2 separate regions of the Homo sapiens genome follow, and region 1 is linked to region 2. Evidence: fine-mapped expression QTL. A gene starts in region 2. The other region holds a variant in brackets. All regions are shown on one strand. Distances are between the middles of the regions.

Region 1 (8,135 bases), 330 kb before region 2:
TATCCATGGCTTAGTTTCTAGTGCTGATAGAGATTTTCTTTCTTTCTTTTCATTTTTTGTTTTTTAATTTGGTTATAATAAGGTTTGGAGAGGCAAGGGAAGTAAACAGATAAACTCGAATCGCTTTCTGAAAATGGAAGCCACAGTTTGTTCTTGATTCCTTCTGACAACTTGAATTAACAGACTTGGAAAATTTTCTCTTGCGTCTTGCAGTAACTCAATTCAGTTGGGAGGCACCTGTGGTCCTCCTTGTTGTGAACAGTTCTGTCTTCTCATGCGCCTGTGACTTTTCTTTGCTTCTCTTCACTAACCCATTGCTAGGAGTTCTGTCAGAGATTGTGCGGTTCCCTGTGTGAATAATTCAGGCCACGACGATGGGAGAATGGAATGGATTAAACTGGATGGAGTTCTCTTTGGCTGATTCGAAGATCTAGATGCTGAAGGAAGAAGAGGAAGCTAGAAGAGGCCAGGGTAAGGAGGTCAGCCTGAACGGGAGTGGTGGCAGGAAGTTTGGACTCCCTGCTCAAGGAGTGTTTTCAGTGTTTGGTATTTGCACTGGGGGTCTTTCTATTGTGAACACAAAGCCCAACTTAGAGGGAGGTAACTGAGGAAGGGAAACCGAGGAGTAGTTCTGGTTTCAAGTAGAGCTGAATTTAAAGTCAAAACAACATCCTTGACAATCCAGTTTCTATCGCTTCCGTGTGCTTCCTGCTGTGTTAGATTGATTCTTGGGCTCACTGTAGTGGCCCCTAAAACTTCTGGGTGATAAAGTGGCTACAACAGCTCCAGCCTCACCCCTCCTCCTCCCATCAGCTCAATTCCAACAGCATAGAGCTTGGATCTTTCCCTTGGTTTCCACTAAACATTTTTTTAAATTAATAAGAGCTTTATTGAGATGTAATTTACATACCATACAGTTCACTCACTTAAAGTAAAATTCAGTGATTTTAGTATATTCATGGAATTATACAACCATCAGCACAATCAATTTAAAAAAAAATTCATCACCTCAAAAAGAAACCCCATTCCCATGAGCAGTCACTCCCCATCCTCCTTTCTCCCAGCCCTAGGTAACCATGAATCCACTCTCTGTCTCTATGGATTTGCCTGTTCCGGACATTTCATACAATACGTGGTCTTTTGCACTAGGCTTTTTTTACTTTGCATGATGATTGAGAGGCTCACCTATGTTGCAGCGTGTGCCTGAATCTTATTTCTTTTCATGGCTGAATAATACTCCATTGTATGGATTCATCACATTTTGTTTATACATTCACTGGTTGAAAGATACTTGGTTTGTTTCCACCTTTTGTTTATTACAGTGCTGCTGGGATCATTTGTGTGCATTATGTGAACATTTGGTTTCATTTCTCTAGGGTAGGTATTGAAGAGTGGAATTGCTGGGTGACACAGTTCACCTTTTGAGAAACTGGCTGTTTTCCAAAGCAGCTATACTATTTTACACTCACATCAGCAGTGTCTAAGGGTTCAGTTTCTCCACTTCCTTGCCAGTCTTGTTGAGATCTCTCTATTTGGCTGTAGCCATGCTTGTGTTGTGCAGTCATATCTTATTGTGGACTCCCACTAAACTTTTGAGAGCCTTTCTGATTGGACCACCCTGGGTGGTGAGACCATTCCTGAATCAATCACTGTGTCAAGGTCCATTTAGTGCTGGATTGACCAGACCTGAGTCAAGAACCTCATCCTGGAGATCCTTCCAGACCATGTGGACTCAGAATGAAGAGAAGGGTTGACTCCAAGTTCAAAATCAGAGTCATTACTAGGGTAAGAGGATCTGGGATGCTGGGAAAATGAGAATTCATGTCTACTAAAGCTCAGCCACCAGCAGTCTGCTGGGGCTGTGCCCTGACCCAGGCCTGGTGGAAGTTGGCTTCAGAGTTTAGTCCCAAGGAATTGCTGGTCTGGTCTGGGGGTCCCCTTCACTGTGCCCCTGGCACCATGGCCACTTATCCATGGCACTGACCAGTTTTAGAGGCTTTAGCCCACTCTCACCTCCAGTTTTCACTGCAGCAGGGCTGTTGGTGAGGATCTGCAAAGACAGTTTTGAAATTTCTATCAAACAGACCACTCCTTCCCATTGTGGAAATAATGAATTCTTCAATCTGGCCCATCTGCCGTGTATCTAACAGATGTTCCTCAGACCTCCTGGCCTATAAATACCACCCTTTGCTAATATCCAGTATGGATAAGTTTTTTCTTATTTTTATATACAGTTGGTCATTTTCTGGGGAATCTGGGAGATAGATAGGTATGTGCTTATGTTGTTGTCTTCCCGCACTAGAGAAGTAACTCCAGCGTGCTTCCTGGAAACAGCTTATGACTCAAGCTATCTATTTCAAGACTGGGTTAAAAATGATGCTACTTCTACTAAAAATACAAAAATTAGCCAGGCATGGTGGTGTGATCTTGTAGACCCAGCTACTCAGGAGGCTGAGGCAGAAGAATCACTTGAACCAAGGGGGCAGAGGTTACAGTGAGCCAAGATCATGCTACTACACTCCAGCCTGGGTGACAGAGGGAGTCTCTGTCAAAAAAAAAAAAAAAGGTGATGCTACTTCAAAACACATCATGTCTCATTGGACACTCTCCACATGGTCAATAATATAATAGAAGTCAGGTGTCACCTTCTAAACAATGAAGGTTTACTACATGGTGGGCACTATGGAAAACATTTTCATGTATTACCTCATTTAATCATGAAATCCCCATGTTATTCTCACATTATAGGTAAGGAAACTGAAGCTCAGAGAAGTTAAGTGACTTGTCAAAAGTCACACAGTAAACCACAACGATTCACATGTAGTGCTAAAATTTTTAAGTGACCCTGCCTGCCACTGTGATTTTTCCCATCACTTTATCTGTCCAGACCCTCCTCCAATCCTGCAGAGCCTCCCTGTGAATATGAGAAACCCATCCCCCGACCTGCTCCTTTCTGGTTTGGCCATCATCAGGGTCTGCCTGGCCTCTGGAGTAATCTGCTGTCTGGCTCCCTGACCCCAGTCTTGCTTCCTGCAATCCATCCTTTGCCCTCCAGCCAACATGAACTTTCTCCAGTGCAACACTGATTGTATCACTGCCTGATTCAAAAGGCTTCAAAGCCAAGAGTTGAAAACTCCTCAGTGCAGGGCACGGCCAGGCTCCTGTGATGCTGTCTCTCTTGCTGCCTCCACACCCTCTGCTCTGCTGCTCGTGTGAACCATTTGCAAGTCCATCAATGCACCATGCTGCTTCTCACTTCTGTCTTTGCACCACTTGTCATTTTGTCTTCTTACCTCTGTCCCCACCCCTTACCCCTCACCAGTTTTACTTCTCTGTGCTCTTCATCCTTCAAGGCCAAGTCTATGTAGCAGCCCGTAGAAGAATACACTTCTTCAAAACCACCACCACAGAC[A/G]TAGCCACCAGGCCTTTAGTCAGGGATGCAATGGCCTTGTAGCTTTGAATCACACCAGCCTACCTGGTTGACCTGCTTACTAGGTTGTCCTCAGAGTCAGAATAGAAAGACTGCTATGGTCATCTGGTCGACCCGAAACCCTTTTCTTAATAGAGATCAAAGCTTAACCCATATTCCATATGGCCCAGCTCATGTTCCCTGGACCATTTCAACAACCCAGGCATAAGGAGCCTTGGCCAGTTTTTCCATCTGCAAATTGAAAGGGAATGTTTCTCCCAGATAATCTCCCAGGCCCTTTTCTACTCTAAATTTCAAGATTGCACGTACTGTCTTATCTTAGGGTCTACAATGAGTTAAACATGATCTCACATTTCCCCATCTCTCTCTGTCTCCTTGCCCCTTGTTCCTTGTTTACTTTCGGGGTACAGCCTGCTCCTGGAAAGTCGTCTGGGCTGTAAGGAGTGGTTACTGCACTTCCATTATTCATGAGTCCCAGGGCCGGCAGTCCTGCAGTTGGAGGATTTGAGCCACGGGTCCCCAGCAGGCTGCATGTCCTACTTGAGCAGGAATAAAAGGCCAGGTTGGATGCCTGCAGGAAGGGTAAACAAACCCATACGCTTTCTACAACAAAAAAAGAAAGAACGAATGAAAAGAAATATTGATTATGTGGCATTGAAGTGCCTGGGGCTTTAACAGACATTCAAAATTGGATGCATTGCTCAAGATCAATAGTAGGTTTTATGCTTCTGACCTAAAAAGTACCAGCTCTATGTAATTTAAACACTGACAGCCACAAGGATATCTCCTAGCATCTGGCCTGCTTTCCTCAGGTACCCCGGACACATCGGCTGGCTTCTCTGCAACCATTTTCCTTTTCTTTGTTTTTTGCGCCGGAAGATGACAGTGGATAAATAAAAGGATTATTTTCGGAAATGTGGAATCAACTGCTTCTGATATCATTGCCTGAAATGATAACCTCAGACAGCGGTGTTGCATGGCTGAAGATGGGGAGGTCAGCTCGTTGACAGGAGGCAGGGAACAGGGGTGGGTTTCTGAGGTTGGAAATGAAGGACAGGAGAGGTGAGTGCTTCCCGGCCAACCTCCCAGGCCTGGGGCTATGCTAGGTGCACACAGGTTCTCCCCCTTGTCTTTGTGCCAGCCCATGGGATGGGAGGTGCCCGGTTTACAGAGGAAAAAACACAGTAACTTTCTTGATTGAGTGGGGATTTGGCTGCAACTAAGGGGGTGGCCAGATGATTTCTAGGGGAACATTTGTGTCTAAGAATTTTTATACGTGCATATGCCCACGTATGCAGACACACACTCACACATACTTCTTGTTGGCTGGGGGACAAACAGAAGCAGAAGAGGACAGTCACTGTTATGGCAATGGGCTCTGACGGCCTGAGATTCCATCCTGACTCCATCAATTATTAGCTCTGACTTGAGACCAGTTACTTAGTTTACCTTTCTCTCAGTTTCTTCATATGTAAAATGGAGGTGATAATCATAATTAATAATAATAATATCTACAGTTTAGGGTTCTTGGGAAGATTAAAAGGGTCTCTACAGGTAAAATTTAGCATGGAACAAGCACACGATACGTGTTAACGAACTTTAGTAACCAGTAGGCAGGCAGGTTTGGCAGAGAATGTGGCTGTTTCAGGTTGCCAGGATGCAGGTTGAGATGTTGATTTCAACAGCGAGTCCAGTTCAGCAGGGCCGAGGTGGGCCAACACCCACCCCAACATCCCAGGCACATGCACACAGGTAAAGCATAGCACCAGCCTTTCAGGAGGTAGGTTCCTACCTGTGGCTCCAGCTGCCCTCACCATATCTCAGGCAGTGCCCTTGGGTCCTCACTGGAGCGGGCACCTTAAGTGGGTGAGCCTGCAGCTTTTCTGGGTGCCTGATTCTCTTAACCCCCACCCAGAGACAATCTGTGGCCCTTCTGTGCTGGCTTTGTTTATGGGCACAGAGTGCATATGTTGGGCAGAGTTGTGTAAAGTTCTCTTTCCCCCCCTTAATTTTGTGGCAGGATAAGACAGTTAATCTGTTTTGACATGCTATCTAAATGGCCCTCAGATCAGTGTACGGAAGAAACCATCCATAAGTCATGTCTTTTATACACATGTACTGGTGTGTACAAGAGGGAGAGTTATATTGGCTGCGAGAGGCAGAATAATAATGGCCGTTATTATGGCGATTTCAGGGTCGCCACATTCACTCCACATATCAAATCCTCTTTCAATGAGGCCAGTTCCATCAGCTGTCAGATTCTATTAAATATATCCCTCAGACCCACTGACCAGCTGACAGGAGAGAAACTCAAAACCACACACCCCCCATTAGCATCATAAAATGTGAAGTCAGCTGGAAGGGATGATAACAGAACTGAAAACAGAAGAGATGAAAATCTGCAATGCTCTTGTGTCCTCCTAAATAGAAACTCCAAGAGTTACAAACAGACCCATAAAATACCAAGGTGAAACAACAACAACAGAAACAAAAACATGACAAAGATCATCCTGTTGTATGCTTCATAACATAGAATGGTTCTTTTACCTTTTGTTAATGTGAGATTTGCATAAATGTTTCATGAGGTTAATACAATGCATAAACCAAAACGTTTATTAGGCAACATCTGTGCTGTTTTCCCAGATAATGCAGTGTTTCTTCCAAGTCAATGAAATATAACCTATCATAAGGTTGGGTTGTTAAAATACTTGTGCAAAGGCTGTGATCATATTTTATGCTTTTGCAGATGCTCTGGTTCTACCAGAGAATTTCTTAATCAGACAAGAGCTTAAGATGGCTGGCACCTTAAAAGAAGGTGTAGAGGTTCTCTTGGAGACAGAGCAAGAGAGGAGAAGAAAGATTTCTATGAGTTGACTAGATTTGCTTCTCCATTTCTTCAATCTAGCTTTCTAAATTTGGATTTGTTTGCAGAGATATTCGCTTAATACTTGAAGGAAAAAATAATTAGATCTGTACTTAGAATCTACCAAGAAGCAGAGAGTGGGTCAAAATGCCCAATGACTTTATGCAGCTACAATCCTATCACAATATTGGTTCCATATGGGACTCTTTAAAGGGAAAAACAAAAAAAGTTATGAGACCAATAATTTTTAATGAAATTTGGCTTAGCTCACAAGCAAGTCCAACAGATGAAACAGCAGCCCAAGCTGGAAACATGATTTTTCTTCTTCCTGGCAGGGATGAAAGAAAGCATTGTTTCAATTAAGAAAGAACCTAATAGAGATATGTTTTGTATTATCAATTTTACACAAGTAAAGATTTAGACATTGTCTCTCTCTCTCAACATCTTTGAGGGAGTCCTTCTCTTTCTCTGATGGCTGTGTGAGATCGTTTTAAATGTGGGAGGCTTCCTGACCCTGCTTTTTGGGTTGGACTTTTGATGGAAAGTTTTAGTAAAAAATTGTTGAAAGCTCTTGTCTCCATCAATTTGGGGCAGATTTTGGAGGTAGAGAAAGTTACCAGAAAATGAGGATGGCAGTCTATCTATCACCTATCTGTCTATCTATCTATTATCTCTCTACCTCACTGTAGCATGAGATTTCCCAGTAGTGAAATTTTGGGCTAGATAATTATTTATTGTAGGGGGCTGCCCTGTGAATGGTATGATGTTCAGCAGTTTCCCTGGCCTCTACCCATTAGATGTCAGTAGCATTCTTCCCCCAGTTTGTGACAACCCCAGAAGCCTCTAGATATTGCCAAATGTCACTTGGAAGGTAACACTGCCCACCAGTTGAGTGTTTTAGTATTTTCCATGAAACACTTAGACATTTGTTTACTGCCATATCTGAGTGTCCTGTGTAGGATTATTTGCTTAAGGACAAAGGTAACTTTTTATTTAGGTAGCATCTGAGTCTGCTCATATCTAGTGGCCTAGCTCTGTCTGGGTTGGAAAAACTCCATATGTCAGAACACAGAAGAAGAATACGAGTTGTAAATGGCAGCCCATGCTGCCCATGCCACTGTGGAATGAAATGAGCTACAGAAGGAACCTCTTGTCCAGGTTCCTGCCTTCAGATGAAACAACTAGGCTCAAAGAGAGTTGGTTCAGCCATTACAAGTGTTCAACTGGGGTGGGGGATCTTCCCGGCACCTCCACCTTGTCTCTGCCTTGCGCATCACTCCATTTTATATTTTCTTGAGCTCTTACTGCTATTTGAAATGATCTTGCTTATTTATGTGTATACTTATGCCTCTATTTTCAATTGACTGTCTCCCCCACTAGAATGCAAACTCCATGAGAATAAGGACTTTACTTGCTTTAAGTGGCAATGTAGCCCTTTATACAAACTTAGGGGCTTTAGTGTCAGACTCAAGATCTGCTGCTTATTAGCTACACTGACTTTGGGCAGCCATTTAGCTTCACTAATCTATATTTTCCTTCTCTGTAGAATAATAATAATAATAATAGGATTGGTTCCTATCTGATGGAATTAAATGAGATCATACTTAACACATAATACGTGCTCCACAAATACAAGCTCTTATTGCTCAACCACCATAATTATACCTAACACAGTGGTTCCTGGCATGGAAAGAAACACAATAAATATTAGTGAAGTAAACGAATGAATGAATGAACAAATTCCCTTGTGTCTGTCTCTAATTTTATTTTATTTTTTTAAGATGGAGTCTCACTCTTGTCACCCAGACTGGAGGGCAGTGGCCGGATCTTGGCTCACTGCAA
Region 2 (8,135 bases):
CAGGCCCTGTCTCTGAGCAGGCATTGTCCTGTCTCATCTTAAACATCTGGGGAGGAGAACCTGGCCTTAGTGCTGTTCTCACTAACCAGCTCAGGAAGCTCACCAGCTTGGGAAGTTAATCATTATGTCTAGCTTCAGTTTCTCCTGCTTCAGTTTAAATTGGGAAAGAGAGAGAAAAAATATTCACTCATTATCTGTTTCCTAAAATTGTCCTTAACATCCTTCCTCTTACTCCTTTATTACCTGGTCGGGCTTCCCCTCTTCAGGCGAAATCTGTCAGTCTATCTGCATTGCCTTTTGATCTCTACTTCAGTTACTACAACTTCAAAGACACCATTGTCCTCCCCAAGGTGAGGCCCATGTAGAGAAAGGATCACTTCCTTGCTGAAAGAGAGGGTCAAGGGGCGACCCACGTGGGCCCTCCCTGAAACCCAGGCCCAGGCCTGAGCCTGGACACCTCCTTCCTTCCTGAGACCACAGCCAGCCCGGTTTCTCTGGGGCCAAGAGCAAATGCTTTGCTTAAGTGCTGAAATCTCAGCCCACTGACCCCTTGCAGACAGGAGAGGAGGGGAAGCCCAGGGAAGCTCAACTTCCCAAGTGTCCTGAGTCTCTGCTGGGGCCAAGCCCCCCACCCTCCCCCAGCTATCCTGCATTCTCCCTCCCTAACACTGTTCTCTCCCTAAGAGATCAAATCCCCCCACCAGTGCACAATGCACTCTAATTCTCCATTGTAAAAGTAAAGCACTCTCTTGACACTCCCCTTCTTCATTTGGCTCCAATCCCATTTATCTGCTCCCTTTACAGCAGGCCCCCTTGTCTGTTGCCTGTACTGCTGTCCCCAAGTCCTCCCATCCCCTCCCATTCCCTCTAGTTCCCCATCCAGCTCCAGTGAAACTGTCACCAGTGACCTCCCATTGCTCAATCCTCAGCCCTCAGCCTGCTTGCTCTGCCAGGGGCATTGGTCATATTTGTTCCCTCCTTCCTCTTTGGGGCATTTTCTTCATTTCCTCCAGGACACCCCAACTCTCTGATTTTCACTCTTTCTGTCTTCTTGGCTGGTTCCTAACACTGGGGGCCCCAGCACTCAATGGTTAGACCCCTTCTCTTCTCCATATCACTCCATCCCTAGATGAGCCCACCTGCTCTTGTGGCTTTAAATACCAGTTATATGGTGATGATGCCCAAAGTTTTATTTTCAACTCCAACCTCCGCCCTTAACTTTTCCCAACTGCTTACTCATCATTGATGCCTAATGGGCAGCTCAAACTCCACAAGCACAAAACCAAACTCTTGATCTCTCCGCTAAGCAACTCCCATTTCAGTTCATGGCAGCTTCAAACCTCCAGAAGCTCGAGCCAAACACTCAGAATCATCTTTGACTCTACCTTTCTCTTGCACCCCAAACCCTATCGACACGGCCTTTGAAATATATCCCAAATCTGAATGTCTGGTTTTCTTTTTTTTAACCACCTCTGGGCCATGGGCAAGACACCATGGTCTCTCCCGAGAATGACAGCAATGATCCGCTCAACGGGCTCTCCTTCTGCCCTTACCCCACCCCCCCCATGATCCATTCTCCACCCCACAGCTAGATGGGCCTGCCAGACCCCAAGTCAAAGCAGGTGACTCCTCTGTTCCAAACCCGTGCTCCCATCATGCTCAGAGTGAAAACCAAAGCCTCCCAGCCCCCCAGATACTCATGTGGCTCACCCCTCAATTCCTTATGACTTTGCCCAGCTATCGTGGTCTTGGGGAAGCCTTCCCTGGTTGTGCTATATACAATGCAATACCCAGCCCCAGCACCCCATCCTGCTTCCCAGCTTTGTTTTACTCGTAGTACTTCCCGCCACCTGCTACGCCATGTATTTACTTATTTCATTGCTGTCCATTCCTTTCTAGAGTGTGCACTCCATGAGGGCAGGGGGTTTTGTCTGATTTTCCTACTGCTCTGTCTCGTGTCTCATCCAGTGCATGAATGATGACTGCTGGAAAGAATGAAAGAACTGACTTGCTCTGCATGGCTCCGGGAGACAGACATGGAACCAAGGTGTAGAATCTGTAAGCCACAGATTTTAGCTAAAGGAAACAAGAGCTGCAAGGCACTAAAAAGCCACCTCATCAGTAATAAGCTCCCCACCACTGGGCATGTGTCACAGAGGGGCTCTGCACTGGGTAGGAGGGAGGTGGGCTGGATGAGGATGCTTCCAGCCTCAGATCCCAGGGTGCAGCGAGGCAAAGGGGCCTTGAGCAGCCAACAAACTCAGGGGCCCCAGCAGCCCCATGGCTGAGTGATCGGGACAGGCAAGTACAGGTGGTGGGGATGTCACTCTGGTCTTTTTCACTAAGGGGTCAGGGGAGGGTGACAGGGCAGGTGTTTCCCCTCTGTAGAACAAGGACCCTGGAGGAGGCTAGGTCACAGCCCATGGGGAAACCAAGGCCATGGCAGGAGAGGCTCAGAAAGAGCAAACTCAGAAGCAGGGGTCCAGCCCCCAGCCCTCATGCAGCTTCAGGAGGTCCTCCCCAGGGGGATTGGGGTGGAGGGCTTTTCAGTTTGTTGGAATGAAAGCAGGACCAGATGGCTGCTCCATCAACCTGAGAAGCATAGGAGAGCAAACAGCTGGGGGATGTGGCCTCGCAGGTCCTGGTGTGGGCTGTCTGGGAAGGGATGGATTTGAACTTAGATCTCACACCCAACAAGGGAGAAGGAGGAGGCAGGAGATTCCCATAAGAGGTACAGAGAGCAGCAGCAGGATCCTCCAGGCAGACTCTCTCACTTATACCCACCCACTCACTGGCATGGTGAAGCTGGGGAAACTGAGTCCCACAGAGAGGAAGGAAATCAAAAGAGTGGCCCAGGGGCCTCCCCAACCTCGAGATGCCCCCTTTCCGTCTCACTTCCCATCTACATTCTGGGACTCCCCCAGGAGAAACCGAGGCAACCCTTGCCCAAGCCCTGCGGCCAGGACGGCTCAGAAGCCAAGTGTTCAAGTCCCGGGGGTGGGACCCTCGGCGCCCACAGTCTCCCCCCAGCCCACCCCCAGGCGCTGGGCACAGCACTCACCGCGAGCCGCCTGCGCGCCGACTCCAAGGCCCACTCCGGGCCACGACTCCCGGCTCCGGCTCCGGCTCGGGCTGCGGCTCCGGGTGCGCGGGCGCTCGGCTCCGCCCCCGCCCGGACCCCGCCCCTGCTCTGCCGGGACCGCAGCACCCGCTCCTGTCCCGTGGCCCCGCAGCCCCGCAGCCCCGCAGCCCCGCAGCGCCGGCTCCAGGGCTGGCCAGGCTTACCTGGGACAGGGCAGGACCGGGGCTTCCTGCGGGGCTGGACGGCCCTGGCTGTGTGCCCTAGCCAGTGTGCCTCTCTTTCTGGGCCACGTTTCAACCAGGAGGGAATCGGGGAGTCCTCGGAACAACCCGCTTCCCAACACATACACATACACACACACACACACCACACACCACACACACCGCTTCCCAGCACACACGCGCACACACACACACCACACACACACCGCTTCGCAACACACACACACGCCCTGCTTCCCCCCCACACGCAAACATGTTTCCCAATACACACACACAGCCCTCGCTTCCCCCCACACACAAACATGCTTCCCAATACACACACAGCCCTCGCTTCCCCCAACACACATACCTTGCTTCCCAACACTCACATACACACACACACACGCCCTGCTTCCCCCCACCACAAACATGCTTCCCGATACACATACACCCCCTACTTCCAACACACACACCCTGCTTCCCAACACTCACACACACACCACTTCCCAACACACACACACCCTGCTTTCCCAACACATACACCCCACACACACCGCTTCCCAACACACACGTGCACACACACACACACCCCACACACACACCACTTTCCAACACAAACACACACTACACTCCCTGCTTTCCCAACACACACACACCCCACACACACTGCTTCCCAACACACACGTGCACATACACACACCCCACACACACACCACTTCCCAACACACACACACCACACCCCACACACACCACTTCCCAACACACACACCGCTTCCCAACACACACAAACATGCTTCCCAATATACACACACCCCACTTCCCAACACACACACATCGCTTCCCAACACACACATCGCTTCCCAACACACGCCTCACTTCCCAACACACACACACACACACACGCACACACAGCCAAAACTAGGAAAACTTTTCCAGAGTGTGACAGGTTACATGTTAGGTAAGAGTGGACTGGTCATTTAAGGTTCTTTTTTTTCATTTTCCTTTCAGTTTTTCCGTTTATGTTGAATGGAGTTTATTTCTCAGTTTAGTACTAATAGGGTTTGAGTACCTTTCTAGCACTGCCTAGATTACTTGGCTCTGAAACTATCTAATTAGCTTTAATAGCATTGTTTTTGTTTCCATTAAATATATTTTATTTTACATTCTTCTGTTCTCCGGAGCAAATGACACCGGTTTTCCATTTAACATGTTAATGTAAATGTTCCTTTTGAAACTCATATTTGGTTGTTTTAAAAAATGTGAAGTCAATTTTTAAAAATAACGAAAATAACTGGCATCTAGAAAGTGTTTACCATGTGCTAGTCTTTACAGACAGTAACTCAGTTACTTCCACCTCTAGGGTATTGACTATTATTGCCTCTAACTTATAGATGCAGAAACTGAGGTACACATTTGAACTTTGATCTCACGCCCACCAAGGGAGAAGGAGGAGGCAGGAGATTCCCCTAAGAGGTGCAGAGAGCAGCAGTAGGATCCTCCAGGCAGACTCGCTCACTTACACCCACCCACTCACTGGCATGGTGAAGATGGGGAAACTGAGTCCCACAGAGAGGAAGGTACTCAAAAAACAGTGGCCCCCTCTGAGACCTGAAGCCCGGGCTCCTCAGGACTTCTCACTCCTGCCAGGGGCCTCCCCAGCCTCGAGATGCCCCCTTTCCTCTGGCACCAGAGATGGGGATTTGCCCCAGGCCTCTGGCACAGATGAATGCTCTAACCACTACCCCATACCGCTTTCAAGTAAATACCTGTGCAGGTGGTGCACAGTCAGCCAAGGTTGGAAAATGCTGCATTAGAAGGACTGAATCTACCCTAGAAAATTCATTCTGGGCAGCGCACAGAACCATCTACAAGGATGTTCACCACCATCTTGCCTACAGCAGTGAGAAGCTAGAAACCTCCCTAATGCCCAGTAACAGAAAATTAATTAAGAAAACTGACAGAACATCTGAACCTAGAACACTTAACCCGACCCATCTTCTCTCAGCCCCACTATCCAATCTGGGAGCAAATTTTTCAGCTTGGCCTTCAAATATTTCCAAGCTGCAGCCCATTTTTGCCATATGCACCATTACCACCTGGGTCCACATCTCCATCATCTCTCACCTGGGTGATAGCAGGAGTTCCTGGCCATTCTCCACGCCTCCATCTACAGCCCTTCTTCAATCCAGCAGCCAGAGTGAGTCTGTTGGTTTTGCTGTTGTTGTCGTTGTTGCTGTTTTAAGTCAAATTCTATCACTCCTCTGCTGAAACTCTTCTGTTGATGGCTCCCATCCCAAAGTAAAAGCCAAGGTCCTTACAATTGCTGTTTGGCCTCTGGCACCCTCTCTGCCCACCTCTTACACTCTCATCTTACTCACTCTGCTCCAGCTACACTGGCCTCCTGGCTGTTCCTCAAATATGCCAAACCTGCAGTTACACTCAGGCCTTTGCCTTTGCTGTGCCTGGAATGCTCTTTCTTTAGAAATCTACCTGGCTCCCTCCTTCCTCTCCTTTGGGTCTTTGCTTCCATATGACTTTCTCGGCAAGGCCTTCCCTAACTATTCGGTGTACAGCTGCAACACCCTCCAATCCCTTCTCTCCTGCTTTATTTTGTATTTTTCTCCATAGCGCTTATCTGCACACAACACATTATGTATTCTACTTATTTATTGTCTTTGTTGTTGGTCTCTCACCCAAGACAGCATGAGCTCCAAGGGAACAGGGAATTTTTGCTTTGTCCCTTGCCTTCTCCCAAGGCCTAGAACAGGACCTGGCATGCAATAAATCTTTGTTGAGTGAATATACTAAAAATAATGCTGTGGTTCTAATAACCAATGAAAATAAATGAATCACTGTACCCCCACGAGAACTGCAGCCTCACAGACATAATGTTGGGTGAAACAGGCTGAGTGCAAGAGCGTGCATACGGAATGGTATCCTTTCTATAAAGTTCAAAAGCAGGCAAAACTGCATTACAGGTAGGAGCCAAGATAGAGGCTACCACTGGGGAGAAAGTTGGAGGTAGTGACTAGGGGAGGAGTGAAGGGGACTTCTGGGGTGCCAGTAATCTCCTATTTTTACTCTGAATAGTGGTTGCATTGATGCAAATACATTGTGAAACTGACCAAGTTAAACACATGATATTTATATTTTCCTTTATGCTTGTCATATTTCAATAGATATTTATTTTTTAAAGATGCTATAAGTATGTTTATCAGATAGAAAGCTGCCTAGAATATATAAGGCTAAATTTATAAAGTAGACTCTTTTTTGAACGAGGATGCCAAGATGATTCAGGGGGAAAAAAGTGGTCTTTTTAACAAATGGTGCTGGGAAAACTAGATGTCCACATGCAAAAGAACTGAATTTGGATTCCTCCTTCAGGCCTTATACAAAAATTAACCCAAAATGGATCAAAGTCCCAAATGCAAGATTTAAAATATAAAAATCTTAGAAGAAAACATAGGTGAAAATCTTTGTGACCTTGGATGAAGCAATGATTTCTCAGATTTGACACCTAAAGCACAAACAACCAAAGAAAAAAATAGATAAGTTGGACTTTATCAAAATTCCAAGCTTTTGTGCTTTGAAAGACATGATCAAGAAAGTAAAAAGACAACCAACGGAATGGGAGAAAATAGTCACGACTCATATCCAGAATATATAAAGGACTCCTGAAACTCAATAACAAACAACTTTTTAAATGAGCAAAGGATTTGAAAATGTTCAGAGAACGTATGTAAGTAGCCAACAAGCACATGAAAAGACGCTCAACATCATTAATTGTTAGGGAAATGTGAATCAAAGCCACCATAAGATACCACTTTACACTCACAAAGGTGCCCTTAGTCCAAAGGACAGAAAACAAGTGCTGGAAATAATGTGGAGAAACTGGAAGCCTCATACATTGGTGGTTAGAGCGTAAAGTGGTGAAGCCACTGTGGAAAATAGTTTGTGGGTTCTTCATAAAGTTAAACATGGTGTTACCATATGATCCAGCAATTCTACTCCTAGGTATACTCAACAGAATTGAAGCATATATGCACACAAATGCTTGTACACAAATGTTCATAGCAACATTATTCATAAGAGGAAAAAGTGGAAGCAAACTAAATGTCCCTCAGCTGATGAATGGATAAAGAAAATGTGATCTATCTGTGCAATGGAATATTATTCAGCTGTGAAAAAAACAAAGTACTGATAAATGCTACAACATAAATGAACCTTGAAAACATTATGCTAAGTGAAAGAAGCCAGTCACAAAATGACATCTATTGTGTAAGTCCGTTTACATGCAATGTCCGGAATAGGCAAACCCATGAAGACAGAAAGTAGATTTGTTGGTTGCCAGGAACTGAGAGGAGGGAGGAATGAGGAGTGACTGCTAGTGGGCATGAGGTTTGGTTTTTGTTTTGTTTTGTTTTGTTTTGTTTTTGCATGATGAAAATATTCCGGAATTAGATCATGGTGATGGTTACACAACCTTGTGAATGGACTAAAAACCAGTGAATTACACACCTTAAAAGGGTGAGTTTTATGGTATGTGAATTATATCTCAATGAAAAACAGTTGGGCTGCCAAATGCTTTGTGTAGAAAGAATATAAGGCTAAATTTAAAGAGTAGGTTGTTTTTTAACAAGGATGCCAAGATAATTCAAAGGGGAAAAATGATCTCTTTAACACATGGTGCTGGGAAAACTAGATATCCACGTGCAAAAGAAATGAATTTGGACTACTACCTCATACTTTATACAAAAATTCTGTAATAGATATGTGTGAATATATGCATTGAAACATCTAAAAGACAAGTTAGGATCGGATTTTAACTGGACTTTTAAAATTCTTCTGTGTTA

The links. PIP is the estimated chance that this variant, and not a neighbour inherited with it, causes the effect.
Region 1: its variant is fine-mapped to the expression of NOD2 in cerebellum (GTEx, PIP above 0.99).

What each region holds. Positions count from the first base shown.
Region 1 is chr16:51,020,706-51,028,840 of GRCh38, reverse strand. It overlaps LINC02127 (long intergenic non-protein coding RNA 2127), which reads right to left. Exons shown (of 3, transcript NR_110913.1): 2 at 6,565-6,621. It overlaps LOC107984903 (a long non-coding RNA gene), which reads left to right. Exons shown (of 3, transcript XR_001752172.2): 3 at 322-4,345. Among named protein-coding and RNA genes, the nearest start is that of LINC02127, 7.0 kb to the right of the region's middle. RefSeq lists an enhancer at 5,160-6,441. The variant A/G (reference allele first, on the strand shown) is at 3,413.
Region 2 is chr16:50,688,589-50,696,723 of GRCh38, reverse strand. It overlaps NOD2 (nucleotide binding oligomerization domain containing 2), which reads right to left and starts at 3,118. Exons shown (of 12, transcript NM_001370466.1): 1 at 3,062-3,118. RefSeq lists enhancers at 195-244, 2,149-2,228, 2,469-2,518 and a silencer at 2,889-3,398.